Linked DNA regions of Homo sapiens. The protein of the gene in region 2 purifies or fractionates together with the protein of the main gene of each other region. This does not show direct contact. Each region holds a gene or a part of one and is shown on either strand. Other genes may lie near its edges. The genes, in order: ENAH, PARL, EEF2KMT and CA10.

Evidence for each region.
Region 1: the proteins of PARL (region 2) and ENAH purify together in Homo sapiens (affinity purification with mass spectrometry; 3 studies listed by BioGRID and IntAct, with this or other methods). This does not show direct contact.
Region 3: the proteins of PARL (region 2) and EEF2KMT purify together in Homo sapiens (affinity purification with mass spectrometry; 3 studies listed by BioGRID and IntAct, with this or other methods). This does not show direct contact.
Region 4: the proteins of PARL (region 2) and CA10 purify together in Homo sapiens (affinity purification with mass spectrometry; 2 studies listed by BioGRID and IntAct, with this or other methods). This does not show direct contact.

Annotation. Positions count from the first base shown.
Region 1 is NC_000001.11:225,517,108-225,524,131, forward strand, and holds part of ENAH (protein enabled homolog), read right to left. Parts: intron 2,459-7,024; coding exon 2,091-2,458; intron 884-2,090; coding exon of another isoform or gene 200-883; coding exon 89-199; intron 1-88. UniProt on the Homo sapiens protein: Ena/VASP proteins are actin-associated proteins involved in a range of processes dependent on cytoskeleton remodeling and cell polarity such as axon guidance and lamellipodial and filopodial dynamics in migrating cells.
Region 2 is NC_000003.12:183,881,876-183,889,757, reverse strand, and holds the start of PARL (presenilin-associated rhomboid-like protein, mitochondrial isoform 1 precursor), read left to right. Parts: upstream 1-4,877; 5' UTR 4,878-4,911; coding exon 4,912-5,036; intron 5,037-7,882. UniProt on the Homo sapiens protein: Required for the control of apoptosis during postnatal growth. Essential for proteolytic processing of an antiapoptotic form of OPA1 which prevents the release of mitochondrial cytochrome c in response to intrinsic apoptotic signals.
Region 3 is NC_000016.10:5,087,796-5,094,819, reverse strand, and holds part of EEF2KMT (protein-lysine N-methyltransferase EEF2KMT), read left to right. Parts: intron 1-1,255; coding exon 1,256-1,336; intron 1,337-2,924; coding exon 2,925-3,026; intron 3,027-4,254; coding exon 4,255-4,388; intron 4,389-4,470; coding exon 4,471-4,736; intron 4,737-5,563; coding exon 5,564-5,713; intron 5,714-7,024. UniProt on the Homo sapiens protein: Catalyzes the trimethylation of eukaryotic elongation factor 2 (EEF2) on 'Lys-525'.
Region 4 is NC_000017.11:51,924,710-51,931,733, reverse strand, and holds part of CA10 (carbonic anhydrase-related protein 10 precursor), read left to right. Parts: intron 1-601; coding exon 602-744; intron 745-7,024. UniProt on the Homo sapiens protein: Does not have a catalytic activity.

The DNA.
Region 1 (7,024 bases), on a different chromosome or scaffold from region 2:
ATCCTACCCATCCATTCAGGCAATTAAAGTCACTGCTATATAACATTTTCAAGTGATTAGCTGTTAGTAGCAATAATGAAAGCCTTACCCTGTTGGGATGGAGTCTCGGCCGGCTGAGAGGCTGCCTGCAAGCCTGGCTCAGAAGCAGAAGAGTCTCCCAGCACAGAGTTTAGAGGAGTCTCAACAGAGGCAGGGGCAGCTGCAGAGGGAGAAGGGAGAACACTAGGCTTGGATGAGGGAGTTGAGGCAATAGGGGTGCTTGGAGGAGGAGAAGCTTGAGATCCACAGTGTGAGAGTGATGCGAGGGAAGGCAGTGGAGGCGGCGGCGGAGGAGCTGCTGGCCCTGAGGTAGGCGGTGGAGACACTGGATATGTTACAGAGTCAACCAGCCCATTGGGTGCTGTCGGTGATGGAGGCATTTGGGGCACAGGAGAAGAAACACAAACAGGGAGGACAGGCCTTGGACCAGTAGCTTTGCCTGGGGGGCTGCTAATCATTATTGGAGGAGATGGAGGGAGGGGCGAAAAATTGGAAGTAGACCAGGCACAGGGCTTCGTAGCTGGAGGCTGAGAAGAGGGTGTGTTCACAGGAGAAGAAGGTCGAGAGTTTTTGTTCAGAGGACGAGGAACTGTAGCGTAATGGGGAAGAACAGGGTGGAAGGCTGAACCTAAAGATGTTGCAAAACGTGTCGCTGAGTGTCGCAGTGGTGGTGTAGGGGGTGTGGAAGTAGGTGGCAAAGCAGTCACTACAGCATAATCAGGAGTGGCATCTGACACTGGAGCTGAGATGACTTTAGCGTATGATGGAGGAGGTGCTGAAGGAGGCTGGCAACTGGAATACTCAGGAAGTGGAGCGTTATACAGGGAGCTGTCTGAAGATGGAGCTGGACAGAAGGTGGAAAGCAGCAGCAAAAGACAGGATAAAAAAGGAGAGAGAAAAAGGGAGCTAGTGAAGCCACAAAACCAGCATTCAGACACAATGTATAAATGTAGACTACAGTTAGTATCAGAGAATTAGGCACAAACGCAAATAACTATTTTCACCCAAGAATATTTTAACTTGTAAATACATTTTGAGATTCAGAAGGGGATGAAATAAGTTTCCTTTTATCTAATAAGTGGATTAATAAATTTAATTGACTAATTTCTTTTACAAGAAAAAGCTAGTATTAGTCTTAATTTTTATTTAGTCTACAAGAAAAAGGACATTAAAATCACATGAATAGGACCATAAACAGAAGAATAAATTTAGTTGTTTTTTTAAAAACAACAAATAGCAAAACTAGTAAAGCTGGCAAAACATTTAATATGAAGGGTTCAATGCTCCTATTCAATGCTAACTTGTGGAAAAGTTTTGTTTTGTTGGCCATAACTCCAGAAAATAATTAGGTAGCTAAAAATACATAAATTAACTTAATAAACCAACCAACCAACCACTGTTTAATCAAACCACATTAAGACTTTTTAATTAGGCCATAAGGAATATTCTTAAATCCTATAATGAATGTTAATTTTAATAAACGTTAAAATATCTCAAACTTTCAGCCATATATTAACCCTTATGTCTTTCAGTAAATTCCAGATTCCATAATTTTCACTAATTTTTCATAATACTAGAAAGCATATTTAAATAACTAGTCTTAGAGAATATTTCTCTAAAATAATTCTTCCTCCAAAATCTTTAGAATGCAATCAAGCAAATTTCTTGCTGAATGGTACTACAGTACTATAGTATTTGAGACAATTTAAGTGATCTCATGAGGGAAATATATTTGAAGTTCATCCAGTATAAAAAATTTCCCATAAAAACACACTTACACTTTATAGCCATTTTATAGGGTGTTAGAAGAATTAGAATGGCAGAATAAAAATTTCCAAGAGCTTTCTTTAAGTCTCCAAGCAATAAAAGCAATACAGAGAGAAATAAAAAGAAAATGTTAAAGTAGTAATTGCTGCATATTTATTCATAATTTCAAATTGTATGGCTTAATCCCAAACATCTCAAATGTGAAATATTTTAACACATGACTGCACAAGAGACATCATCCAAGCTCAGATACAAGAACACAGAAGAGTTTGTAAACTTCTTACCAGCACTTGATATTCTGCGCTCTCTCTCCCATTCCAGCTGTTCCCTTTCTAACTGCTCTTGTCGCTCCCTTTCTTGCCTCTCCCGTTCCAGTCTCTCCAGCCTCTCTCGTTCTTGTCTTTCTTGCCTCTCCCGATCCAGGCGTTCCTGCCGCTCCAGGCGTTCCTGCCGCTCCAGGCGTTCCTGCCGCTCCAGGCGTTCCTGCCGTTCCCGTTCTTGTCTCTCTCTCTCCAGCTGTTCTTGTTCCAGTCGCTCCCTCTCCAGCCTTTCCCTTTCTAACCTCTCTCTCTCCAACCTTTCTCTTTCCATTCTTTCTCGCTCCAGCCTTTCCCGCTCCAGCTCCTTTTGCCGTTGCTGTTCTTGTAGTTGTCTGGAAAAAAAAAAAAAAAAGTAAAAACATGCATCTATGGCTACTCATCATGAAAAAGCGATTCTTTTCACCTATGTAAACTATTTCTGAGTCAAATAAAAGCAATGTAGAGCATGCAAACATCTCTCCTCCCACATGAAGGCTACCTTGGATAGAGACTGTTTCATACAAATGAAAATCATTTCTCCTATTAGCATCATATTGGCTGAATGCTTCAGCACATTGCACTAACATTTCATTTTATTCTGTACTTTTCATGAGTAGTGTTGCAAGTAAATGAATTTTCCAAATAACATACCACTTTAATAACCAAGTCATTATTTTAATTATTTAGTGAAAACATTTGTAATTGTAATATCCTTAATATCAAATTTAATTGTACAAATAATATTTCAGAAAATACAATGACTGGCCACAGCAATAGCTCAATAAATATTTACTGAATGGGCCAGGTGTAGTGACTCACACCTGTAATCCCAGCACTTTGGGAGGCCGAGGCAGGTGCATCACTTGAGGTCAGGAGTTCGAGACTGGCCTGGCCAACATGGTGAAACCCCATCTCTACCAAAAATATAAAAAATTAGCCGGGCATGGTAGCGTGCGCCTATAATCCCAGCTACTTGGGAGGCTGAGGCAGGAGAATCGCTTGAACCTGGGAGGCAGAGGCTGCAGTGAGCCGAGATCGTGCCACTGCACTCCAGCCTGGGTGACAGAGCAAGACTCCACCTCAAAAAAAAAAAAAAAGTTTACTGAATGAAAAAGAGTCAAGAAAGAAGAAATAAACTTTAAATGATTGAAATCTCATATCCAGAGGCAACTATCATCAACATATGTATATAAAGACACACATCTATATATACACATACGCGCACACACGCACCCCTATATACCTCTAGACTTCCCCTTGTGTAAAAATACACATATAAACTTTAAAAACAAAATAAAATGTAACCATTTCCCGCTACTGTGAAATCTGCTTTCCTTTCTCTCACTTAATATATTGTGAAAGTTGGTCTGGGAGCAGTGGCTCAGCTGTAATCCTAGCACTTTGGGAGGCTGAGTGGGAGGATTGTCTGAACCCAAGAGTTCAAGATGGGCCTGCACAACAAAGCAAGACCCATCTCTACAAAAAATTTTAAAATCAGCCAGGCATGGTGCCATGCACCTGTATTCCCAGCTACTTGGGAGGCTGAGGGAGAAGGATTGCTTGGGCCTAGGAGTCTGAGGCTACAGTAAGATAAGATTGCATCATCACACATCAGCCCAGGCAACAGAATGACACCTTGTCTCCAAAAACAATGAAAGAAAAGAAAGGAGGAAGCGGGGAAGGAAGAAAAAGAAGGGAAGGAAGGGAGGAAGGGAGGGAGGGAGGGAGGGAGGGAGGGAGGGAGGGAGGGAGGGAGGGAGGGAGACATAAGTTAGTAAAACTGAGGATATCTGGGATGAGAACCTGCCTGTGTGTACAACTCTGGATGGACACACGCACGCGCGCGCACACACACACAGAGTTATCCTAAGGCACTTAGTTCAGCATCTTTATTTTCCATGAGTGCATAATAATATTCGATTATTTTGCTGTCCACAGTCTAAGCAGTCTCCTACAGTAGGATATTAAGTTATCCTAACACTATTGGCAATACTGCAATAACATTTGTCTTCATCTTTGAATCTTTTTCTGTTTCTATAGGATCAATAAGGACATAAATTTTGCTAGGTGAAAAGGTATGAATTTAAGATTTTTGATACATGGTTCCAAATTGTCTTTAGGAAAAGTTGTGTCAATTAACCTTCCCTAAAAAAAAAGTTATCTTTGCCAGGCACGGTGGCTCATGCCTGTAATCCCAGCACTTTGGGAGGCCGAGGTCAGGAGTTTGAGACTAGCTTGGCCAACATGGTGGAACCCTGTCTCTACTAAAATTACAAAAATTAGCTGGGCGTGGTGGTGTGCGCCTGTAATCCCAGCTACTTGGGAGGCTGAGGCAGGAGGATCACTTGAACCCGGGGAATGGAGGTGGCTGTGAGCTGAGACTATGCCCCTGTACCCCAGCCTGGGTGACAGAGTAAGACCCTGTCTCCAAAAAAAAAAAAAAAAAAGTATCTTTATCTTACACATACGTATTTCATAGCACTGTGGGGAAGATTAAATGAAGTAATACCTAAAAGCTCTTTAAGAAGTACTTGAAACATAAGAACGTTCAATGTGGGCTATAACGATAGTTTTTTTGTTTTGTTTTGTTTTTTCTTCCCCGAGACAGAGTCTTGCTCTGTCGCCCAGGCTGGAGTACAGCCATGCAATCTTGGCTCACTGCAAGCTCCACCTCCCAGGTTCACACCATTCTCTTGCCTCAGCCTCCCGAGTAGCTGGGACTACAGGTGCCCGCCACCATGCCCGGCTAATTTTTTGTATTTTTAGTAGAGACGGGGTTTCACAGTGTTAGCCAGGATGGTCTCGATCTCCTGACCTCATGATCCACCCGCCTTGGCCTCCCAAAGTGCTGGGATTACAGGTGTGAGCCACCGCGCCCGGCCCAACAATAGTTATTATTTGGAAATTTCAAATTGGGACTTTCTGGACTGGCTAATAAACTGGGTGGGTCTAGTTAGAGACAAAGCTAAATGACAGCACATGCATGCTATCCCTTTGTTCCTTCCAGCGGTACCAACACACCAGTAAGATCTTTCCAAAAATCTCTCTCCTTCATGTTTCCTAAGCTGGCTATACAACAAAAGAAAAGGCCCATTTGACAAATACATCAACCCCACTGCTCTCATAAAACACACACCCTCTCCTGGACATACCATCACACTTAACAATGACTGCAAGAGAAAAACACAAGAAACTGACTTTATTTATGAGTAGTTATTTATTTATGAGTAGTTGTTTGAGATACTGACTACTAATAAAATCAGATTTTCAGGATCTAGTACGGACTTCATTATGCTATTTGATAAATCACTAGCTGCCAAAGTTTTTGAGGGATAACAATAACTTTATCTGCAGGGATGAGGGGAAGAAATTAGATGTATTCAAAAGAATGTTTTTAATAATAAACAGAGGAAAGTCAGGGTTGGTTGTTGTTGTTTCTCCAGTAACCTGCAGTTAATAAACTCAGCTGGAGCCTGTATTAAATTTCAGATAATTCAACCTACATCAAAAAATATGGGCCATTTTACATATAATGCTCTAAGCAATCTGTTGGGCCCAAAGGGCAAAAGATACACCCATATTATTCTAATTAGAACAAATTTAAATACAGAAGCTAAAGAGAAACATTTAAGAGCACAGTAGCTGTCCCAAGAAATCTATGATGAAAAGATCTAAGTTTTTAGATCTTTGAGCATTTGTTACTTCTTCTATTTTACCAAAACAACATAAATATATAGTTTTTAAAGTTTATAACAAAAATCAGTAGTTCACTGCCTCAACCCTCCCACCCGTTTCCTACTCTTGCAGCTGTTTCTTACATTTTAGCTTTTGCTATCTACTTTCTAACAGGAAGATGCCTTCTACAACTCCCTCACTACACTCATGCTTCTCCCAATATGGAAAATCAATATTCACAGCTTACATTATTAACATGATAATGTAAATACTGCTCACAGCTGAACCAAATAGTATTCTATGACTACATTTCATTTCTCATTCAAGTTCTTAGTAGTTGGGTTTTTTTTTAACCACCAAGTTAATGGCTGTTTCTCTAAGCAATACAATGCTTTTAACACACAAAAAGTAAGCTTAAGTCACAAGCAGAAGGCCAGGCATGGGTGAGGTGAATCTGAAAGAATTATTGGTAACAGCATTTACAGCTAGGTTGTATTGACTTAAGAAGTTTGTTCCACATGTCATCATATTCCAGGGTTTTCAGGCTATAAAAGATAAGGAGTGTCTACTGATATAGGAAAAGGACACAATGCTGGAGAATATTTCTAAGTTCACAGACAGATGATTCAAGCAGGCAATTCATATAGCTGCAGGAGATTCTTACTATTTTCTTGTTCTGAAGGTAAGAAAAGAAAGTGTTGAACACTTTAAGCTAATTTTTAGCTTGCTTGCTGAAAAGATGCCCATCTAAACGGATTTCCCAAAATAGTGATTCAAGCAGAAAATCTCTGGCTTCCGAATCTTGTGTGGCATGAATAATTCCCACCTAAATTGGATGGTTTATAAATTTGACTCTCATGTTTTGACCTCTAAAGCAAGACATTTGTGTAGCTTTCTAGGAGGAGTTTCCAAATTTATAAACTTTGCTTTTCCTCAGAATTATCGCTGCCAATTCACATACTGGAAATGCACATGGCTCCTCTTCCTAGAGTTCTCTCTCCAACTGTTTTCTTCAGTCATTAATAGAATCGTCTGAGGACTTTTTTCAAAGAAAGAGTGCCTTAATTCTGAACCATGAAAAATCCTGACGGACTACTTTAATTTTTCTTTTAAGCTAGGCATATATATTCTACAATAATTTGAAAGTTTCTGAGAATATAAATTTTTTTCAGAAACAATTATAGTGCAAATCACCAATATTATTTTTTAAGCATTTAAAAAATATCAGACACAGTTCCTCCACC
Region 2 (7,882 bases):
CTGGTATAGTTTTATGGGTGCTGGCAGAAAATACAAGACTCCTGGGTCAGAAATGAAGGACAATTTATTACCCACAGCAATAGCATTAGCCAGACTATTAGAATTTTTGTGCTGGTTCCTTGAGTCCCAATTCTCATGGAGCAATGTGAAGAGGGCTGGACTGTACCTGCAGACTCAGTGGGTTGCATTAAGGAGAGGAATTCTGAACTGAGGAAGTAGAATCTTTTATTTATTTATTTTGAGACAGAGTCTTGCTTTGTTGCCCAGGCTGGAGTGCAACGGCATGATCTCAGCTCACTGCAGCCTCTGCCTCCATGGTTCCAGTGATTCTCCTGCCTCAACCTCCTGGGTAGCTGGGATTACAGGCGTGTACCATCACACCTGGCTAATTTTTGTATTTTTAGTAGAGACGGGGTTTCACCATGTTGGCCAGGCTGGTCTCGAACTCCTGACCTCAGGTGATCCACCCACCTAGGACTCCCAAAGTGCTAGAGCCACCGTGCCTGGCTGAATCAGAATCTTTTATTTATTTAATGATTATTATTTTTTTTGAGACAAAGTCTCGCTTTGTCCCCCAGGCTGGAGTGCAGTGGCACAGTCTTGGCTCACTGCAACTTCTGCCTCCTGGGTTCACCTGATTCTCTTGCCTCAGCCTCCTGAGTAGCTGGAACTACAGACGTGTGCCACCAAGCCTGGCTAATTTTTCTAATTTTAGTAGAGATGGGGTTTTACCATGTTGGCCAGGCTGGCGTTGAACTCCTTGCCTCAAGTGATCCACCCACCTCGGCCTCCCAAAATACTGGGATTACAGGCATGAGCCCCTATGCCCCGTCATGGCATTAGAATCTTTTATGATAGGCAGCACACAAGCCTGTGCTCTCTAGGGTGATATTATCTTTCTTCCAAGGTTATAAGCCAACTGCCCTTTGCTCTTGAGGAAAACATCTCTACCTTTCAAGATTGTTCGCTTGTTTACTATAAAAACTCACTATTAAACAGTAGATTCCCCAGGCTCAGTATTCTTTGGTTGAGATGCAAATCCACTGCATGTTCTTCATCCATTTGGCTCATGGCATTGCCACCATGGGACTTGGAGAACATGCCGTGGTAATATAAAGTGTTTTGTCTCTGACCCAGGAGTCTCCTGTCTTTTGCCAACATCCAATCTTTTAGCTTGCAAATAGGGTAAAATCAAATCCCAGACTTGACACCTCTGATATAACCAAAGTGAATTTATTTTTTAGAAACTGATGTGTATTTTCCATCAACGTTATTTCCATGTTGCTTAAGAGCCTGTGCAAGAACAGCTTAAGACCATTCAGTGGTTGTTTCTACCCATTCAGTGGCCTGAGCAGTGGGAGCTGCAGACCAGTCTTCTGTGGCAGGCTGAGCACTCCAGTCTTCAGTAGGGACCTGATGAATAGGCACAGAGGGCACCTGTACACCATCAGACCAGTCTCCAACCTCAGGCTGAATAGCGGTGAACTCAGGAGCTGGAGCAGTCCATTTGCCCTGAAATTCCTCCTTGGTCACAGTCTTTTCAGCAGCAACCTGCTCCTCTTTTCCAATCTCTTCAGGATCTCTGTAGAAGTAGAGATCAGGCATGACCTCCCATGGGTGTTCGAGGGAAATGGTGCCACACACGCGCAGAACTTCCAGGGCCAGCATCCACCAGCTCGGACCCACTGAGGGAGCTCCCTTGTTGTTGCATGTGATGGCAATGTCCACATAGCGCAGAGGAAAATCTGTGTGACATAGAGCAATGGTAGGTAGGTTAACATAAGATGTCTCTGTGAGAGGCTGGTGGTCAGCCCTGGGATCAGTAACCACTAGAAGCCGTGGCTCCCTGAAGGCTGCCTGGGTCTGGCTAGTGAAGGTTCCAGGAGTGAAGCGGCCAACAATTTGAGTGGCTCCAGTGGCAGCAGCAAACTTCAGCACAGCCCTCTGGCCAGTATTGCTAGAGGACATGACACTGACATCAACAGGGTTTTTAAAGGCAGCGATGGCACGAGCTGCCAGCAGAAACTTCTTGCTTCTCCCAGGTCCTCTTCAGATGTAGGATGTAGACGCCATCACTTTTCTTCTTACAGATGTGCTACTCCATTTGGAAGTCAAGGTTGGTACCACCTAAGTGGGTTCCTGCTGCAAGGAACTTAAGGACATCCTCCTCCTTCATTTGCAGGACATCAAGGGCTCTAGACATTGTGAAAGTTTCCCTTTAAGTTACAATGAGAATTGTAGGGACCAGCCCCACAGGGTCGGTGGGTCTCTCCCCACATGCAGAGACGAGAGAGCGTAGAAATAAAGACACAAGACAAAGAGATAAAAGAAAAGACAGCTGTGCCCGGGGGACCACTACCACCAAGACACGGAGACCGGTAGTGGCCCCAAATGCCAGGCTGCACTGATATTTATTGGATACAAGACAAAGGGGCAGGATAAGGAGAGTGAGCCATCTCCAATGATAGGTAAGGCCACGTGGGTCACGTGTCCACTGGACGGGGGCCCTTCCCTGCCTGGCAGCCGAGGCAGAGAGAGAGAGGAGACAAAGAGAGAAACAACTTACACCATTATGAGAGACTTTTAGTACTTTCACTAATTTGCTACTGCTATCTAGAAGGCAGAGCCAGGTGTACAGGATGGAACACGAAGGCAGACTAGGAGCGTGACCACTGAAGCACAGCATCACAGGGAGACGGTTAGGCCTCCGGATAACTGCGGGAAAGCCTGACTAATGTCAGGCCCTCCACAAGAGGTGGAGGAGTAGAGTCTTCTCTAAACTCCCCCAGGGACTACTAAGTAGCAGGTGTTTTTCCTTGACATGCTACCGCTAGACCACAGTCTGCTTGGCAACGGGCATCTTCCCAGACGCTGGCATTACCCCTAGACCAAGGAGCCCTCTGGTGGCCCTGTCTGGGCATAATAGAAGGCTCGCACTCTTGTCTTTTGGTCACTCCTCACTATGTCCCCTCAGCTCCTGCCTCTGTATGGCCCGGTTTTTCCTAGGTTATGATTATAGAGCGAGGATTATTATAATATTGGAATAAAGAATAATTGCTACAAACTGATGATTAATGATATTCATATATAATCACGTCTATGATCTAGATCTAGTATAACTCTTGTTGTTTTATATATTTTATTATACTGGAACAGCTCGTGCCCTTGGTCTCTTGCCTCGGCACCTGGATGGCTTGCCGCCCACAGAGAATCTAGAACAATGCCGTATGGGCCCCTCTCTGGGTTGTGTGGAAAAGGCGTGAATTTATTTTAGTTTTTCAAACAAGTCGTGCGCTGGGAGACATCACAAATGCTATTCTTTCTGAGGAACACTTCAATCCTCTTCTCTTGGTGACCTCTATCAGTTTCTCTGGGAAGCCTTCTCCCTGAGCCTCCCATGCCCCTTCCTTCAATTGGGCTATATCCCCCCTCTCTAGACTCCTACAGAGCCTTCTCCCCCAATACAATAGAATCTTTGTGAGGTCAGATATAGTGTCTTCTCAATTGTATCCCCAGGTTTAACATATCACCTGACACACTGTAGGTGCTTAATAAGAGCTTATGGAATGAATGAAGTGCTATTGCAGAGATAAGCATAAAGCGGTATGTGAGTACAAAGGAAGGGAATCTAAATTGGAGTGGAGGTCTGGGAAAGGCCTCCTGGAAGAGGTGACACTTGAGGCTGACCTGAAGGACAAGTCGGTTAGATGTTTCAAGTGGTGAGAACGGTAGCATGAATGCTCAGCAGTGGGAACGCGGATGGTGCCTTTGAGTAATGGCCAATGACTGTATGGCTGCAGCTAGGGTCGGGGGGAATGGAATGGCAGGGAATCAAGCTAACTGACAGGTAGTTGAGGGATGGATTATGAAAAAGTGAAAGCCCGCTTTTCATTTCAGGCTTGGATTTTGTGTTTATTTACTTATTTATTTATGAGAAAGGGTCTCACTCTGTTGCCCAGGCTGGCACGATATCGGCTCACTGCAACCTCCCGAGTTCAAGTGATTCTCCCACCTCAGCCTCTCGAGTAGCTGGGATTACAGGTTTGCGCCACCACGCCCAGCTAATTTTTGTATTTGTATTTGTAATTTTTTTGAGACGGATCTCGCTCTGTCACCTAGGCTGGAGTGCAGTGGTCCAATCTCGGCTCACTGCAACCTCCGCCTCCCAGGTTCAAGCAATACTCCTGCCTCAGCCAACTGAGTAGCTGGGATTACAGGCCCCTGCCACCATGCCCGGCTAATTTTTGTATTTTTAGTAGAGACGGGGTTTCACCATGTTGGCCGGGCTGGTATCGAACTCCTGACCTCAGGTGATCCGCCGGCCTCGGCCTCCCAAAGTGCTGGGATTAAAGGGGTGAGCCACCCCGCCCGATAGGCTTGGACTTTGTTAAAGGCATACAGAATAACACGAAGTGGTGAGATGCAGAAAAAAGTAGTAATTTAAGAAAACTTGGCTTGCCACGTTGGTTCCTCTAGGGACCAGCCCTGCAACTCCGGGCAAGTCCTATCCCCTCTGACCAGAGGCAAAGTGAAACAGTGATGACATCTACCTCTAGCAGTGCTGTGACGATTAAATGCGATCTTAGGCAAAGCGCCTGGTATGTGCCGTTACTCGAAAAAATGACAGTTGTCCCTCTTCGCTCTGGCCCCATCCTCCTCATCTGCAAATGCCGGGAGGCCGGGCCACTCTCGCAGGTCGCTCCCGGAGCCAGCTGAGCAGTGGGAGGGGAAGCGGTGGGACAGAAGGGCGCCAGCCAGTCGTCCGGGCACCGTGGCTGGTTCGGCTGCCGCTCAGCCGCGCGGGGGCGCTCTAGACTGCTCCTCGTGCTCTATGGTGTTGCCTTCGCCCCGGAAGTAGTTGCGCAGCTGGGGTTGGTAAGGTCGGGCCATGGTGGGGCAGAGGTTGGGAAGATGGCGTGGCGAGGCTGGGCGCAGAGAGGCTGGGGCTGCGGCCAGGCGTGGGGTGCGTCGGTGGGCGGCCGCAGCTGCGAGGAGCTCACTGCGGTCCTAACCCCGCCGCAGCTCCTCGGACGCAGGTAATAGCCGCCGCGCTCTGGTCTTCTCGCCTCTTGGTCCCTGAGCTCTGGCCGTGTATCCTCGGGGGCGGAGGCCGTCTGGGCCTCTTGTGCTGGCCCCAGCTCACCCCCTTCACCTTACCTGCCCCTTCTCTCTCCTCTCTCGCCTCCGTCCAGTCCTCGCTTCTCGCTCCCCTTGCCCAGCCCAGCCCCCCGCGAGCCTGCGCTTTCTCCTTTCCCATTGGGAAGGACGTGACTGGAAGGGGAACTAAGCTGAGGGTTCATTGCGTGCCACACTTCATAATCGCGAGTGGAAACTGTTGAGCCAGTTTCTGAAGTGAAGAAGTTAGTACAGCTGGCAGAATGGCGGTTTTTATTCTTTTTCCATCTAATTATAAAGGTTGTGTTCCATTACAACCAGTCGCCTTCTTTAGCTTGTGATCTAAGGGAGGACGAAGTCTGATGGAAGGTATCACTTTGTGTCTGGCAAAGTCGTAGGAGAGGCTTTATTGTTGAATTGAGACAGTGGAAGATTTCGTTTCCGGTTGATTTGGAAAGAAAACTGCCGAACCTTCCGAGTAGAAGTGTGAAGCGTATGGTTGATCAGTATTGCTGATTTTTGCATCACAGTAATTCATTTCTAATTTGAGAGAGAAGAGAGAAATTCCTCACCTGTTTAAGAATCTGATGTGCATTTGGCTTTGAAAATTTTCCTCCTCTTTTGTTCAAAACTTCATTCCTTCCAATTTCTGACTTGGTTAGATGGGTGCCTCGAATCCACCTGATTGCTGATAAGAAACATTGTTTATCAACACGTGGGATAGTCAGTGGTAAATAATCGAGGCTCTAATGTGGCGGAGCCATTGCCTAATCTCAAGGATCACCTGAAGAGTTTGTATGGATTTTATGTCCCAGGCCTCACCCCAGTCCTCCCAAATCACAATCAGGAGAGGGGTGGGTGGAGTGGAAGAACCTATATGTCCGACAAGCATTCCAGGTGAATTTTATCAGGGACTTGTGAAAACTTTACATACATTGTATCTTCATACACTAACATAGATCTGTCAGGCACTAATCTTAAACTCCTGGGGAGGTGGAAAATGAGGACAGATGGAGGTGGTAATCCCATTTGAGATTGCATGGTTTAAGGGGGAAAGAAAAGATTAATACTGGCCGGGCGTGGTGGCTCACACGCCTGTAATCCTAGCACTTTGGGAGGCTGAGGCAGGTGGATCACCTGAAGTTAGGAGTTCAAGACCAGCCTGGCCAACATTGCAAAACCCCGTCTCTACTAAAAATACAAGAAATTAGCGGGGCATGGTGGCGGGCGCCTGTAATCCCAGCTACTCGGGAGCCTGAGGCAGGAGAATGGCTTGAACCTGGGAGGCGGAGGTTGCAGTGAGCCGAGATCGTGCCATTGCACTTCATCTTGAGCAACAGAGTGAGACTCCATGTAAAATAAATAAATACTGTACGTGTATTAGGAAGCAACAGGAAGTGTGTTAAACATTTAAGATTTATGTACACATCACCGTATTGGTTTTAGGAAGGGGAAGCAAAAGAAAACTAATGAGCCTCTAGTAAAAATTGAGTATAAAGACCATTTGAAACAGTGAACCAGAAACACATGAAATGTTGAAGATTAGTATTTAATGTCTGAAAAGCTTGCCATTTGTATAGAAAGTTTGAAAATGACATTTTCGTGGTTGCATAAAAAATATACATGAGAATGTAGGCCTGAAATAGAGCATTTGCCTCTGGTAATAAGTTCTTAAAGTTAATAGTATCAGTTTACCTTATATATAACCTTTATTAGCTATATGTTGACTTCTTATGGCTTTGAAATTAGCGTGCAGAAGAATGACCCAATCCGTGTCATTTGATGTATTAATAATAGGCCTGAAGTGGGACCAGGAATTTGCATTTTACAAGCACTCTAGGTGGTGATACTAGGGTCTGAAAACTACTGCAGGCCCAAGGCGGCCCACCAGCCAAGAATGGTTTACATTTTTAAAGGATTGTAAAACAAAAATAGTAATATGTGACAGATTTCAGTAGTCCACAAAGACCGAAATATCTTCTATCTGGCCTTTTACACAAAAGGGGAAAAAAATCTTATTTGGGCTCCTTGTAAACTTTACTGTTACCAAGGTTTGAGGCTTGAAAGTGGAAACCTGTTTAATTTGCCAGTTATATGAAACTATCCAAGGGAAGAAAATAGTTGAATTGTAACACTTAACATTTTATATTTTTAAAAAACTTGCCGTTTGTATGGAAAGTTTATATTGAGATGATAGTCTCTCTCTTTCTCTCTCTCTCTCTCTCTATATATATGTGTGTGTATATGTGCATATATATGTATATATGTGTGTGTATATATGTGCATATATGTATATATGTGTGTGTATATATGTGTATATATGTGTGTATATATGTGTGTGTATATATATGTGTGTGTGTATATATATATATAAATATATATATATATATATATATAAATATATATATATATATATATATTTTTTTTTTTTTTTTTTTAGAGACATTGTCTTGCTCTGTTTCCCAGGCTGGAGTGCAGTGGCACGATCTCAGCTCACTGCAACTTCCGCCTCCCGGGTTCAAGCGATTCTCCTGCCTCAGCCTCCCGAGTAGCTGGGATTACAGGCATGCACCACCATGATGCCTAGCTAAGTTTTGTGTTTTTTGTAGAGACGGGGTTTTGCTGTGTTGGCCAGGCTGGTCTCGAACTCCTGGTCTCAAGTGATCTGCCTGCCTCTGCCTCCCAGTGTTGGGATTACAGGCTTGAGTCACCATGCCTAGCCTCAAAATATCTTTAAGTAAGATACTTGACATATTAGTCAATCGTA
Region 3 (7,024 bases), on a different chromosome or scaffold from region 2:
CAGATATCCTCCACCCCCACCCACCCAGCCCATCCTAGGAGCCCCGGTGAAGAATTCCTGTGCTAGAGGTGAACCAAGATTATCCATGTGGAAAAGATACAGCCACAGCAGGGAAAACTTTCGGGGCAATACCAGGGCTTCGAGCATGGAGATACCTGAAGTTATCTCGCACCCTGCTCTGAGTTTCACCCTGAGCCTCACTCTCGTAGGTGGTGAAGCATGAAATGTAGGGAGAGCTGCTTTAAAACCCAGCACAAGGCTGGGTGCACTGGCTCACACCTGTAATCCCAGGACTTTGGGAGGCTGAGGTGGACAGATCACCTAAGGTCAGGAGTTCCAGACCAGCCTAGCCAACATGGCAAAAACCCATCTCTACTAAAAATACAAAAATTAGCTGGGCGTGGTGGTACATGCCTATAGTCCCAGCTACTCAGGAGGCTGAGGCAGGAGAATCGCTTGAACCCAGGAGGCAGAGGCTGCAGTGAGCCAAGATCGGGCCACTGCACTCCAGCCTGGGCAACAGGGCGAGACTCTGTGTCAGAATAAATGAAAAACCAGCACCAGCCTGAAGAGCCTGTGTATTGCGTGGGGTACTTTGCTGCCCTTGGGCAGAATCTGCATCCCTCCCAGCCAGCAGGCACTGTGGACCGTCTCCTCCCTCTCCCTCCAGGCTCCTGTTTTCCCGCCGTCCCCACTCCTGCTGCACCAGTCCCTCTGCCCTCCTTTCCAAGTGCCAGGCTGTGGCCACCTCAGAGCTTGCACCAGCTGTTCCCACTGCCTAGAACTTGCTCATCCTGCATTTGGCTTCTCTGGGCTTTAGCTGGAGTGTCACCCGGAGCGTCCCGTCCCCTCCATCCTGTCCCCAGGGACACACACTCCAAGAGAGCAGTTGCCGAGTGGGCCTTCCCGCCTCTTCCATAGAGCCAGACCGTTGGCGACTGTCCTTACTGCAAACCCTGGTTCACACTGGCTCCCCTGGGAGGGAGGCGGTTTGGGCCCACATGCCCTGTGTTCCTGCTCAGAATGGGCGTTAGAAATGCTGCCATAGCCTGTGCCACTGCAGTGGAAGCATTTTTAGGAAACAGCTTATATCTTAAGACAAACTTCAGATGCATGGGGCCAAAACGCTGTGTCCATCTACATCTTTGCTGAGGGATCGGGTAGCCTGGAGTTTGCCCTCTGCTGTGTTGGCTTGAAGCTCATAGGAGACTTAAGACGGGCTCTCGAGCAACCAACGTTCTGTCCTTTGCCGTAGACTGTGAAGCATCCTGTGTGTGTGAAGCACCCGCCGTCCGTCAAATATGCCCGGTGCTTTCTCTCAGAACTCATCAAAAAGGTCAGTTATGGGCAGTGTCCGCCCAGTAGCCGGACAGCATAGCCACCTGCGTGCTGGAGCCCCCGTCCTTCCCAGGCCCTGGGCCTGCTTTGCAAACCCCAGCATGGCAGGGGCCTCCCCAGGCAACTGGCTGCAGCCACATGTGACCCATGGGAGACAGTGCAGGGCGGGAAGAAGGGGAGGCCAGCATCTCTCCCTCACTCTGCCTCCTGGGGTTTCCACGGCAGCTGCTCCTCTGGGGCCCCAGCTCCTAGCATATGGATTCTCATTCCTACCAGGCTGGCCCAGCCCACAGCACTGGAACCCTCACCCGCACCCTCTGTCCTGCCCGCTGAAGGGTTTGGAGTTTCCTGCTCTTGTCCGTCTCTGGGTTGCCCCACAGGCCCCTGTTGGAAGATTTAGCTCTTGCCATACCTTCGGAACTAGTTCCTCTGGTGAATTCTCTGCATTAATCCTGCTGGAATGAGCTCTTTCCTGACTGATAAAGGATGAATTTTATTTTTTACTTATTTATTTATTTTTTTGAGACAGAGTCTCACTGTGTTGCCCAGGCTGGATTACCGTGACACAATCTCGGCTCCCTGAAACCTCTGCCTCCTGGGTTCAAGCAACTGTCATGCCAGCCTCCTAAGAAGCTGGGACTACAGGCACACGCCACCATGCCTGGCTAATTTTTTATTTTTAATAGAGACAGAGTTTCACCATGTTGGCCAGGCTGGTCTCGAACTCCTGACCTCAGGTGATCCGCCTGCCTCGGCCTCCCAAAGTGCTGGGATTACAGGCATGAGCCACCGCACCTGGCCTAGGATGGATTTTAAAGATGCGCCCGAACATGCAGGGTTTGACATGAGGATGTCGAGAGGCCTCCTCAGTAGGCAGTAGCAGACCTGCTGAGTGAAAGAGCCACACTTTTAGCAAATAAACAATCCCCTGCTTCTCCAATACCTGCTTTCTCCCTAGTCCTCCCCAGAAGCATGCATCTGTGGTCACCAGCAGGTCTGCCCTGTGCCACCAGGAGAGGGCAGCAGTCACCCAGTGTACTCTGCTGCTGCCCTGTGAATCATAGGACGGGGCCAGCTGTGGAGAAGCGGCCTGCTGACAGCCACAGCCTGCAGCATGGGCCGCCCTCACACTTCTGCCTGGGCTCACTTAAAAGCACCTTTTGTTTTCCTCCTCTCTGTGTTTGATCCAAACACGGCTCTCTATCATGGTCACCTGGCAACTCTCACGGAATCCTTGTCTCCTGCCCTAGACTACACCTAACCCTACCCTCCCAACACCTCTGGTTCAAGGCCCTCCCATCCAGGTTTCCCTACCAAGTGAATTTTTTTTTTTAGAGACAAGGTCTCTGTTGCCCAGGCTGTCCTCGAACTCCTGGGCTCAAGCAGTCCTCCCATGTCAGCCTCTAGAGTAGCTGGGACTATTCGGCACACACCACCAAGCCCAACGAAGTGAATATTTTATATGGCAGCTGGCCGGTATTATACCATTCCATCGCAAATCTCCCCTCCAAACTTGGTGAAAATCATCTGGCCATTTTTACAGATTAGAACGAAAGCAAACAAGCTCTCACTCTGTCTGCCCCCAGCACGAGGCTGTCCACACAGAGCCTTTGGACGAGCTGTATGAAGCGCTGGCGGAGACCCTGATGGCCAAGGAGTCCACCCAGGGCCACCGGAGCTATTTGCTGGTATGAGAAGGGCACCCTCCTCCCCCTCACAGCCCAGATACCCTTCCTGCACAGACAAAGTGAAAACGTGGGTGTGGGTTCAAATCCTGACTCACCCATTCTACAGTCTTAGACATGAGGTCCGTCAACCTTCTTTAGCCTCAGTTTCCCTGTCTGTAAATCAGGCACTTCAACAACAACAGCATGTCTCGTGGAGTTGTTGGGCACTTATCCAATAGGTGACACACACTACCTGCTTCACAAGGACCTGGTGCCCAGTCCTCAAAGAATACTTGACAGGGCTGGGCGTGGTGGCTCACGCCTGTAATCCCAGCGCTTTGGGAGGCCGAAGTGGTTGCATCTGAGGTCAGGAGTTCGAGACCAACCTGGCCAATATGGTGAAACCCTGTCTCTACTAAAAATACAAAAATCAGGCCGGGCGTGGTGGCTCATGCCTGTAATCCCAGCATTTTGGGAGGCTGAGGCGGGGGGATCACCTGAGGTCAGGAGTTTGAGACCAGCCTGGCCAACATGGTGAAACTCCATCTTTACTAAAAATACAAAAATTAGCGGGGTGTGGTAGTGGGCACCTGTAATCCCAGCTACTAGGGAGGCTGAGGCAGGAGAATCTCTTCAACCCAGGAGGTGGAGGTTGTAGTGAGCCAAGATCATGCTATTGCACTCCAGCCTGGGCAACGAGAGCAAATCTCTGTCTCAAAAAAAAGTACAAAAAGTAGCCGGACATGGTGGCACACGCCTGTATTCGCAGCTACCTGGGCGGCTGAGGCAGGAGAATTGCTTGAACCCAGGAGGCAGAGGTTGCAGTGAGCCAAGATCGTGCCACTGACTCCAGCCTGGGTGACAGAGCTCAAAAAAAAATAAGATAAAACATAGATACAGAAAACCACAAAGGAAAAACAGCATATTGAATCATCACAAGGCAGCCACCCCTTCATAGCCACACCTGTCCCCTGGCCACCACTGACATGTGTTCCATCGCCAGAATTCCGTTGTCTCAGGAAGGTTCGATGAATGGAATCCTGTGTGGCCTGAGATGAGTGTCTTTCACACCGCGTGACACCCTTGAGGCCCGTGAAAGCTGTTGGCATGCCAACAGTTAGCTGCTTCTCATTGCTGAGTGGCGATTGGTCCTGTCATGGTTTATTCAGCCATGTGGTGGGGCTACTTGTCTTCTAAGCCACTTGCCTTCTGATCGCTGGACTGACTCTCTCGCCTTCTCTTGGTGCAGCCCTCGGGAGGCTCGGTCACACTCTCCGAGAGCACGGCCATCATCTCCTACGGTACCACAGGCCTGGTCACATGGGACGCCGCCCTCTACCTTGCAGAATGGGCCATCGAGAACCCGGCAGTCTTCACTAACAGGTGACCTCGGGGCGCAGGGCAGGGCACCGAGGCAGGCTTACCCTGGTGCAGTCGCAGACACGGTCCCCTTTCCTCCCGCCAGGACTGTCCTAGAGCTTGGCAGTGGTGCTGGCCTCACAGGCCTGGCCATCTGCAAGATGTGCCGCCCCCGGGCATACATCTTCAGCGACTGTCACAGCCGGGTCCTTGAGCAGCTCCGAGGGAATGTCCTTCTCAATGGCCTCTCATTAGAGGCAGACATCACTGCCAAGTTAGACAGCCCCAGGGTGACAGTGGCCCAGCTGGACTGGGACGTCGCGACGGTCCATCAGCTCTCTGCCTTCCAGCCAGATGTTGTCATTGCAGCAGGTAATGCCCAGCCCCGGGCACCCTGTGCAGGTGGTGTCCTTGCAGCTCTACCCAGCTCTTGGCTCTGGGAAAAGGGAACAATGGACGCTGTCGGGCATGGACATGATGGGGCTTCCAGAAGAGTTACTCTGGGCCTCCAGGGTGACATCACAGGACAGGGGTGCCTCTTAAGGTGACCTTCAACCCACAGCCCTCTTTTTGGAGACAGGCATACTCCCGTTCCAGTCGTTACCACATGGCTCTGTCCCAGAGCCATGCCCTGTGTCCTTCAGAGACCACAGGAGGAAAACAACCACTTCTGGGACGAAGACAGGGCCCTTGAGAGAAGGTGGTGTTTGGCTGGGCCACCGAAAACCCCTCACCCCTGCCAGCACACTCAGTCCCCTCTCTGGTGGAACAGAGCTCTGCCTGTGGTCCTAGGTCCCAGCCCTGAAACCCACAGGTCCAGCGGTGGCCAGGGACACAAGCCCACCCCTGCAAGCCAGCAGACAAATCAGCAGATGCCTGAAACATGAAGTTCATGGCAGGGTCAGGCTTTGTGTCATTCAAAGCCCTCTAGATAGGCCAAGAACCAGAGCTGGTTTTTTAAGGAACACCAGTGAGTCTGGAGATTTTTTTCTTTTGCTTCGGTCTTTTGCAGCTTTCTCTACTAAGGGTTCTCCTTTTTCACCCAAGTAATTGCCTTTCCATCTAATGGCCCAAATGGTCAAATGGCATCTACTAGTCTCATATGACCGCTGCCTCTCTGGCCTCGCCCTGCTGCTGACGTCAGCATGACCTGGACCTGTCCACTGGTCCCTTTCAGTAACCTGAAGCTTTCACCATAGATGTGCTGTATTGCCCAGAAGCCATCATGTCGCTGGTCGGGGTCCTGCGGAGGCTGGCTGCCTGCCGGGAGCACCAGCGGGCTCCTGAGGTCTACGTGGCCTTTACCGTCCGCAACCCAGAGACGTGCCAGCTGTTCACCACCGAGCTAGGTGAGCCTCCACGCCCACCCGGGCCTGCATGGTCCCTGAGCTGTCCCTGCAGGACGCCAGTGGAAGTGAAAGAACTGGGTGCCGGGGAAAAGCTAGGTTGCCCCACACTCCCACACCATGGGGGGAACTCAGGCAGAGGCCAGTGAGCAGGGTGGGCTTGGGGCGTGGGGGGCTTGCGGCAGGAGGAGGGCAGCTCAGCACAGGGAGGGAGGGTCTGAGCCCAGCAGCCCTACTGTGTGCTTCAGAGCAGGGTTCCCTAAGCCCTTGGGCCTCGGTTTCCTCATCTATAAAATGGAGGTGGCGGGAGGGGCAGTCGGGGTCAGGGCTGGACACAGCTGTGGCCTGCAGGACGCTGGAGCACAGGATGTACAGGCGGATCCACCACGCCACTGTCCTGAGCACCCAGTCGGTGGAAGACGAGCAGGGTGACTGTAGAGAAGGGGAACTGGCCCCATAGTGGGCCAGCAACTGTCCTCAGACCTGACATTTGTCAGCCCCCAGCAACTGTGAGGGTGTGCTGTCACTGTCCCATCTCACCAACAAAGACACTAGGACACACGGAGGCCAAGAGACCCCCGAGCTCCCGCAGACTGCACCCCAGCCACCTGGCTCTCACGCCTCCACACTACACCCAAGCCCCCCAGTGCCACCAGCCTTTGCCCCAGCTCCCCCTGAGCACAGCCCCTCCTGGCAGCCATGTGCACAGATGCACATGCAGCAGCCTCTGCCTGCACACAGAGACACAGACAACCCAGTGCCTGTCCACGTGGGGCAGCCCGTTAACTACAGAGCCAACAAACAAGCCAGCACACGAAGACGTACTGGGTTCCACGACAGAGTCCCCCCACAACCTCGCACAGGAGGCTGGCCGGGCGCAGGGCTCAGGCCTGTCATCCCAGCACTTTAGGAGGCTAAGGCAAGAGGACTACTTGACCCCAGGTGTTCAAGACCAACCTGGGCCACATAGTGGGACCCCATCTTCACAAAACATACAGAAGCTAGCCAGATGTGGTTGCACACGCCTGTAGTCCCAGCTACTCAGGAGGCTGAGGTGGGAGGATGGCTTGAGCCCAGGAGATGGAGGCTGCAGTGAGCCCTGATCTCACCACTGCACTCCAGCCTGGGCAACAGAGCAAGACCCTGTCTCAAAAAAGCAAAGAAATAAAAAATAAAAAAAAAAAAAGGAAGTCTTTCTTCAGATACTTACGTGAAAAAAAACCTGCAATATATTTTAAGTGAAAAAAACAGTGCCAAGCAGCACACATAGTATAAGCCCCCACCCACCTTTTTTTTTTTTTTTTTTTTTGAGAC
Region 4 (7,024 bases), on a different chromosome or scaffold from region 2:
TCTTTATCTACAAGTACATTAGGTTAATGACACAGTGTTGAACTAAACAAAGATGAAGTCAAGTTGCTAAGCTCTTGTCTGGCATTGATTAGGGGGCTCATAAAATAAGTCACTCCCTCAGTTTAGTCTTGACAACCCAAAGAAAAACTTTGTGTACACTGAATGACACTTTCCTTGAAAAACTTCCAAATAGGATAAGGTTGATTTTCACATCGTTCTTGCCAGATAGGAAAAGCACAGCATCAACTCCAGGGAATTGCTAAATATTTGTGCTACCCCAGGCATATTGCAAAGATGATGAGACCTGAACAATGATGTTAGCATTAAAGTGTTAATGATGACTGCAGTCAACAAAGAAACTGCAGGATGAGTGGGCCTCAAACAAGAAAATCTGATGACAAGAGACCATGCAGGTAAGACTTAGAGAAGTGGACCAAGATTCAGACCAGGAAAATACCATAGCAACCCCCAAGGATCTCCATGGGTGGGAACATTTGGTGGTTCTCTTCCATTTTACCACGTTTGTACATAGCTCTGTTTATTTATGTTGTTTCCCCAACCTGCTACTCAGCCTAATTCTATAATTTCTTTTTGTTTCTAGTTCCTTCTTTCTGGGGATTGGTGAACTCAGCTTGGAATCTTTGCTCTGTGGGGAAACGGCAGTCGCCAGTCAACATAGAGACCAGTCACATGATCTTCGACCCCTTTCTGACACCTCTTCGCATCAACACGGGGGGCAGGAAGGTAAGCCACCATATTGCTTCCATGGTAAAGTTGAAGATGGGGCCATCTTGATTCTGAAAGCTAATCCTCAAGGCTTCAGTCTCTGTGATGAGTTTGTCCTCCCACCTAGGAATACCACAGACTTCAGACCTGCCGCCATTAGATAGAAATATGTCTAAATTGTGCTTTTTCTCCCTAACTAGTCAAACTTTTGTGCTTCTGATTACTCTGTACCTCCTGGAGGTTGCCTGAAGTCTTATCAGACAACCTTGGTACCCCCATAAAGGACAGAAAGCATAGTGGCCACCCCTGCCTATCATGCTGGGAAAATCTTTCCTCTAAGAAACTGCTTTACTAGGCCTTCTTTTAACCTCAGTGAAGTGAGAAAACCAATTAACAAAAATAAAATCAGACGTTCATCATCTTGGGAGGAAAAAAACAGACAAAAATCACCTTAGATGATTTATAAGAAAATCAATAATTAATCTTCCTAGGGGCATCTTGCTTGCTAAGAATCCTAGCTCCTGCACAGAAATGCTGAGCTGGGCTTTGTGATTCTCACACCTAAATCCCTCCTTCACTCTCCTCCCCCCATAACGAGCTCCTCTTTAATTTGTGGAAGGGCACAAGTGCCCATTGGGTCTTCTCATCACTGGAATCTTAGCACTTCTCTTGCTGGTTCATGTCTACTTGGCTATCTTTTACTGTTGAGTAGGTTGTTAAAGGTAAAAAAAAAATGCACATGCAGAAAATTGTGTTCAAAGGTAATTTAGCTATTGTTAAGAGAAATGGAAAATAATTTGTGTGCAAAAAATTGAGGTTAAAATTATTGACAACTTTTGATAATACCAGCGGCTGATTCTTCAGGGTTTGGGTCATTGGGCTCTGTTCTCTCTTCCTTTGTGCAGTCTGTTCACCATAAATACCATGAAGTTTGTAAGTTAACTTTTTCCCCTTCTGATGTATTGAAATATATTTTCTTGTACCATGTAACTGTCACAGATACACACACCCCTAATGACTCATCAAAAAGCTGTAAGTGACTTTGACTCAGGTCACAAAGCAGGTTTTAAAAGACATTGCATGTGGTCGACACCATTTAGTTATGCAGTATTTGTGTACTGTTTTAAATATGACTTGAGAAGCATTTTTGTGGAAAGGTCATATATAGGTCATTTAGTTTATTGCTCTGATTCCATATAAAACGATGCTATCCTAATTATTGTTCCATTTATAGTTTTATTTTTATAAATTCTGCAAGGAGCTTGTCATGGCTTCTAAGTACATTTCTCTTTAAAAAGGTGAATTATTTATTTAAAGTCGTGAACACGTGTGAGTTCGCTGGTCAGTATTTAAGAAGGAAAAGTTGTAGTTATGATTAAATATTCAGTCATTCTTTCTTTCTTGGAGAGGGTGATGTAGGGGATAATTGCATTCTAGGCAAAAGGAAAAGCAGGGGGTGGAAAAGCCCAAGATACAGAATGGGGTTTGGTGCCTGAGTTCCAGAATGCAGCTGAAAGGTAGCCAGCAAGGCTGAACACAGGGAGCGAAGAGAGGCTTGCAAGATGGTAGGCTAGAGAGGACAGCAGAGGGCAGGTCCTGAGGCAGTGTTCGGGAGCTGAATCCTTCGCCTACGAGTTATGGCAAGCATTTGAAGGGGTTTTAGATAAAGTACAGATTGGGATTGAGATGGAAAATGTGTCAAACTAACACAAACAATGGATATATAATTTTTACTTTCCATCAGAATGTCTTAAAGGAAAAATGTTGATGTGAAAGAAAAAAATGTCAACACAGCTTCTCCCTAAAATTTATTGGGAAAGAAGAGATTGGGAGATAGTCTAGTGTTAAAAATCACTCACATGTTATGACTTGGGTTTTTTTTTGTTTTAGAGATATTTTTTGAACAGATGATTTTGTATCTTTCCAATTCAGGAAAGTATACCTGATCCAAACCAATTTTCAAATGCATTGGAGTTTGGAATCTTGGCAACATTTACTTTTCATGATGTAAATATTTATATCTGGCACAATTTTTGTTGTCAGTGGTTTGAAGAGCTGAGAACTGTCTGATGGTTCCTTTTGCATTTGTGAAAGGTAGAAAATAAAATATAGTTGGTCGTGATAAACTAATTGGTAATGAAATGCCTTAATTTGCTAGGCAATAGGTAAATCATGTTTGTATCACATTTTGAAGGTGATGTTTAATGAGTTGGAAACTTGTTTTGAAAGTGAGAATTCAAATCACTGCTCTGATTTTTGTTTTCCCTTAAAGAAATACCCAACTTAATCGATTTGAAAATCACCCTGTAAGACTGGGAAGTTTTGTTGAATTTGGGCAAGATGTCACATTTTGAAGTCTGAGCCAAGCTGGGTGTCAGTACGTGAAATGCAGCCTAGTAACTACATGTTTTGTGTCGCATTTTTATCCACAAGCATTATTCTTTCTGGTGTTCAAGTGTATCTTATGCACAAAACTGTGATGCAGCTCTCTGGAAGCCCCTGACTTGCGTTACTATGTTTATTTTAACATATTTGACCTGACATTGGGCTCAAATGAAGGAACAAGGGCTTTCCTTACCATAGTTTAAGGCTAAAATTCAACCTCAGTACAAGAATAGCAAGGAATAATAGTTATTCCTTCTCATCCTATGCACTGTGCCTTGAGTGTAATAGAAAATATTCATTTTTATTTAAAAATGAGATTTATTTCACCTTTTAGCCTCATGTGACAGGTTGCAGTCAAAATGCAGTTCAAACTGTGTTTCATGCAAAAAGTTATTTAAAATATTGTATATAATTACCTTCAGGCTATCTACATAAGACATAATGTATATGAAACATACATGAATTTTTTGTTTCGACTTGGATCCCATCCCCAATAAATCTCATTAGATATATGCAAGTATCCAAAATTAGTAAAATTTGAAGCACTTATGATCCCAAACATTTTGCATAATGAATATTAAATCTGTAATTGTATTTTTACAAATGGCACGCCCTTAAGGCTGGGTTGTATGTAGATATAAGACTCCTACCTTGGAACCAATCTCCACCCTTTGACCCTGTTAAATTTAACATCCAATTGCTACATTGTTTGGAGCTAATTAATCCATTCTAGTTAAAGCTACTAAATTAACTTAATCAAAAAGAGGAGGTTGGGGAGATAATTCTTTGTGGTTTCAGGTTGCTTAAAGTTTCCATATATGAAGAAGTTTGATTATGATATAAATGATGTTTTACACTGAGTTAAGCCTCACTGACTGTTTTAAAGATTGAGACCCTTGTTAGCCATTGAACTTGTAAAATTTCACAAAAATGTTCACCTTTCATGTCTTTTTGCTCAGACCAAAGTGAGTGTACGCAGTGTGTTTGTGTTTTAATTTTAGTGTATAGTCACATAAGTGAGATTCTTGGTAATTTGAAAATGAAATACAGGATGAGAAGGTTACCGCAGAGTAAAATATGGATAACTTCAATCAATTATTTTGGAATATAGATATTTGCTTTGAGGATTTGATATAGGTGGGTATTGAAAGGTCGTGAGTTTAGCTTTCAGGAAGGAAATATGGCACATAGAAACCTATCTGCTGATCTAAAATATCTAAAAGGAGAAAAAACATATTAAAACTGAGACTAAAACCCACTTGCCGATTCTATCATTTTAACCAAAACTCAGTTCCGTCATCTTTTCTCATCTTTTAACTCATTTAATAAAATAGACACCTCAGTAGTTAAGGACATGACAATTGCTTATCATATGTTAAGTATAAAAAGTAGGATCTGTCATATGTTAGGTATAAAAGGTAGGATCTAAACATAATTATCATATATTAAGTATAAAAGGTAGGATCATATGTTAAGTATAAGAAGTAGGATCTAAGTATAAAAGGTAGTTGATGACACGACAAATCCTTATCATATGTTAAGTATAGAAGGTAGGATCTAAAAAAGAGACTGGGATGAAGGATAATACTGTTTTATTTTTTCTTTTCTAAAGTTTCTAGATTTGCTAAAACAGACTTGCATTAATTTGGTAATCTGAAAAATACGTATGTTCTAACCTCTCTTTCCATTTCATTTGAAAATATATTTGGAGTTGATAAATGTGGTAGACAGAATAATGTCCCCTTCCAAAAATGTCCACATCTTAATCCACAGGACTTCTAAATGTGTCACTTTACATAGCAGAAGGTATCTTGAAGATATGATTAAATATAGGATTTTAAAACTGGAAGGTTACCCTGGACTATCCAGGCAAACCCCTTGTAACCATAGAGTCCTTAAAAGGAAAAGACAGAAGCAGGAGAGTCCGAATCAGAACAGAGACGTGAGGATGGAAGCAGAGGTCGGAGTGACACAGGGCCATGAGCCAAGGAGGCCTCTGGAAGCTGCAAAGCGCAAAGAAACAGATTCTTCCTTGGAGCTTCCAGAAGGAATACAGCCCTACTGACACTTTAATTTTAGCCCAGCAAAACTGATTTCAGATTTCTAACTCCCCAAATATAAGATAATAAATTTGAGTTCACTTGAGCCACTAATTATGGGGTAATTTGTTGCAGTGCCAAAAGGAATCTAAAATAATAGATGTGAACATAAAGATTATACTGGTTTACTAACCACAAATCAACAAATTATTTTTAAAACTTTTTGGCATTTTTGTAAAATTATAGTCAGAAACAGCCTTTTTCCTGTACAACAGGGAAACAATAAAAATGAATCTAATCACAGATTCATAGCAGCTTAGATTTGTGAGAGCACCTTTGGAAGCCAGCTCCTGACACTTCCAGTCCAATGCTGTGGGGTCTAAGTTCCTCTCCACTCTCAGTATCATCTTGTCATTTCTAGGAGTTCTTAACTACCGATAGTTCTTCATATGGGTCCTGTGTTTGGTCTCTGCTGCAGAATATTTGACAGCCATTTTTTCTTTAACCATTTTAAAGTGGATGGTTCAGTGACATTGAGTACATTCAGGCTATTGTGCAGTCATCACAACTATGCATTTTTGTAACTTTTTTATCATCCCAACTTGAAACTCTGTACCCAGTAAACAAGAACTCCCCATTTTCCATCCCCCTCAGCCCCTGGTAACCTCTGTCCTACGTTCTGTTTCTATGAATTTGCCTGCTCTAGGTACCTCATATAAGTAGAATTACATAATATTTATCTTTTTTATGTCTGGCTTATTTCACTGAGCATAATGTTTTCAAGGTCCATCCATGTTGGAGCATGTATCAAAATTTAATTCATTTTTAAGGCTGAATAATACTCCATTGTATGTATATACCACATTTTGTTTGTCTGTTCTTCTGTCGATAGACATTTGGGTTGCATCCAGCTTTTGATTATTGTGAATAAGGCTGCAATGAAAATTGGTATACAATGAACTGTTTGAGTCCCTGCTTCCAGTTTTTCTGGGTGTATGGCAAGGAGTGGAATTACTGGGGCATATCTATGTTTAACTTTTTGAGGTTTGTCACACTTTTTTACACAGTGGCTATACTATTTTACATTCTCATCAGCAACACACAAGGATTCCAATCTTTCCATATCCTCACAGAAACTTGTTGTTTTTTTTTTTTTGTTATTTATTTTGAAATAGCCATCCTAATGGTTGTGAAGTGATCTCTCACTGTGATTTTGATTTACATTTCCCTAATGAATTGGCAGACTTTCACAGACATCCAGTACAAGTTTTTGGAATACAACCTGTTCCTGATACAGAGGGTAGAAGATCTTGAAACCTCTGAGAAGGAGATAGGTTGTAGAAATAATTGACCTTAGCCTAATGGCACAGTCAGGAATATAAGAAGTAAAAAGAAGCAGGGTGCAGTGGCTTGCACCTGCAATCCCAGCTCCCCAGAAGGCTTAAAGCAAGAGGATCACTTGAAGCCAGGAGTTCAAGACCAGCCTGAGCAACATAATAAGACCCCATCTTTAAAAAGAGAGACAGAGAAAGAGAGAGAAGCAAAAAAGAGAAGAAGCTGGCCATCAGCAGACTGAAGACCTACATTGGTTATCTCAAAGAAGCTGATTTTTCCCCATATCTTCAGGTTTTTTGTTTGAAATTTTGCCCAGCAAAGGCTAAAACTACTGTTGTCGCCAATTTCCTTTTGATTTCTGGATACCTGGGGATTATATCAGGGAGAGTCTCAGCAAGAGACATGGAACATGTTGAGTCATGAGGATCCCTCATAGAGGGACCGTTTATAACCACCCCAGGTCTGGAAGGGGTGAGGAGAGGGAGTGAGGACCAGAACCTGGAGACCAAATGAACCAACCATGGAGAGGAACACCTGAC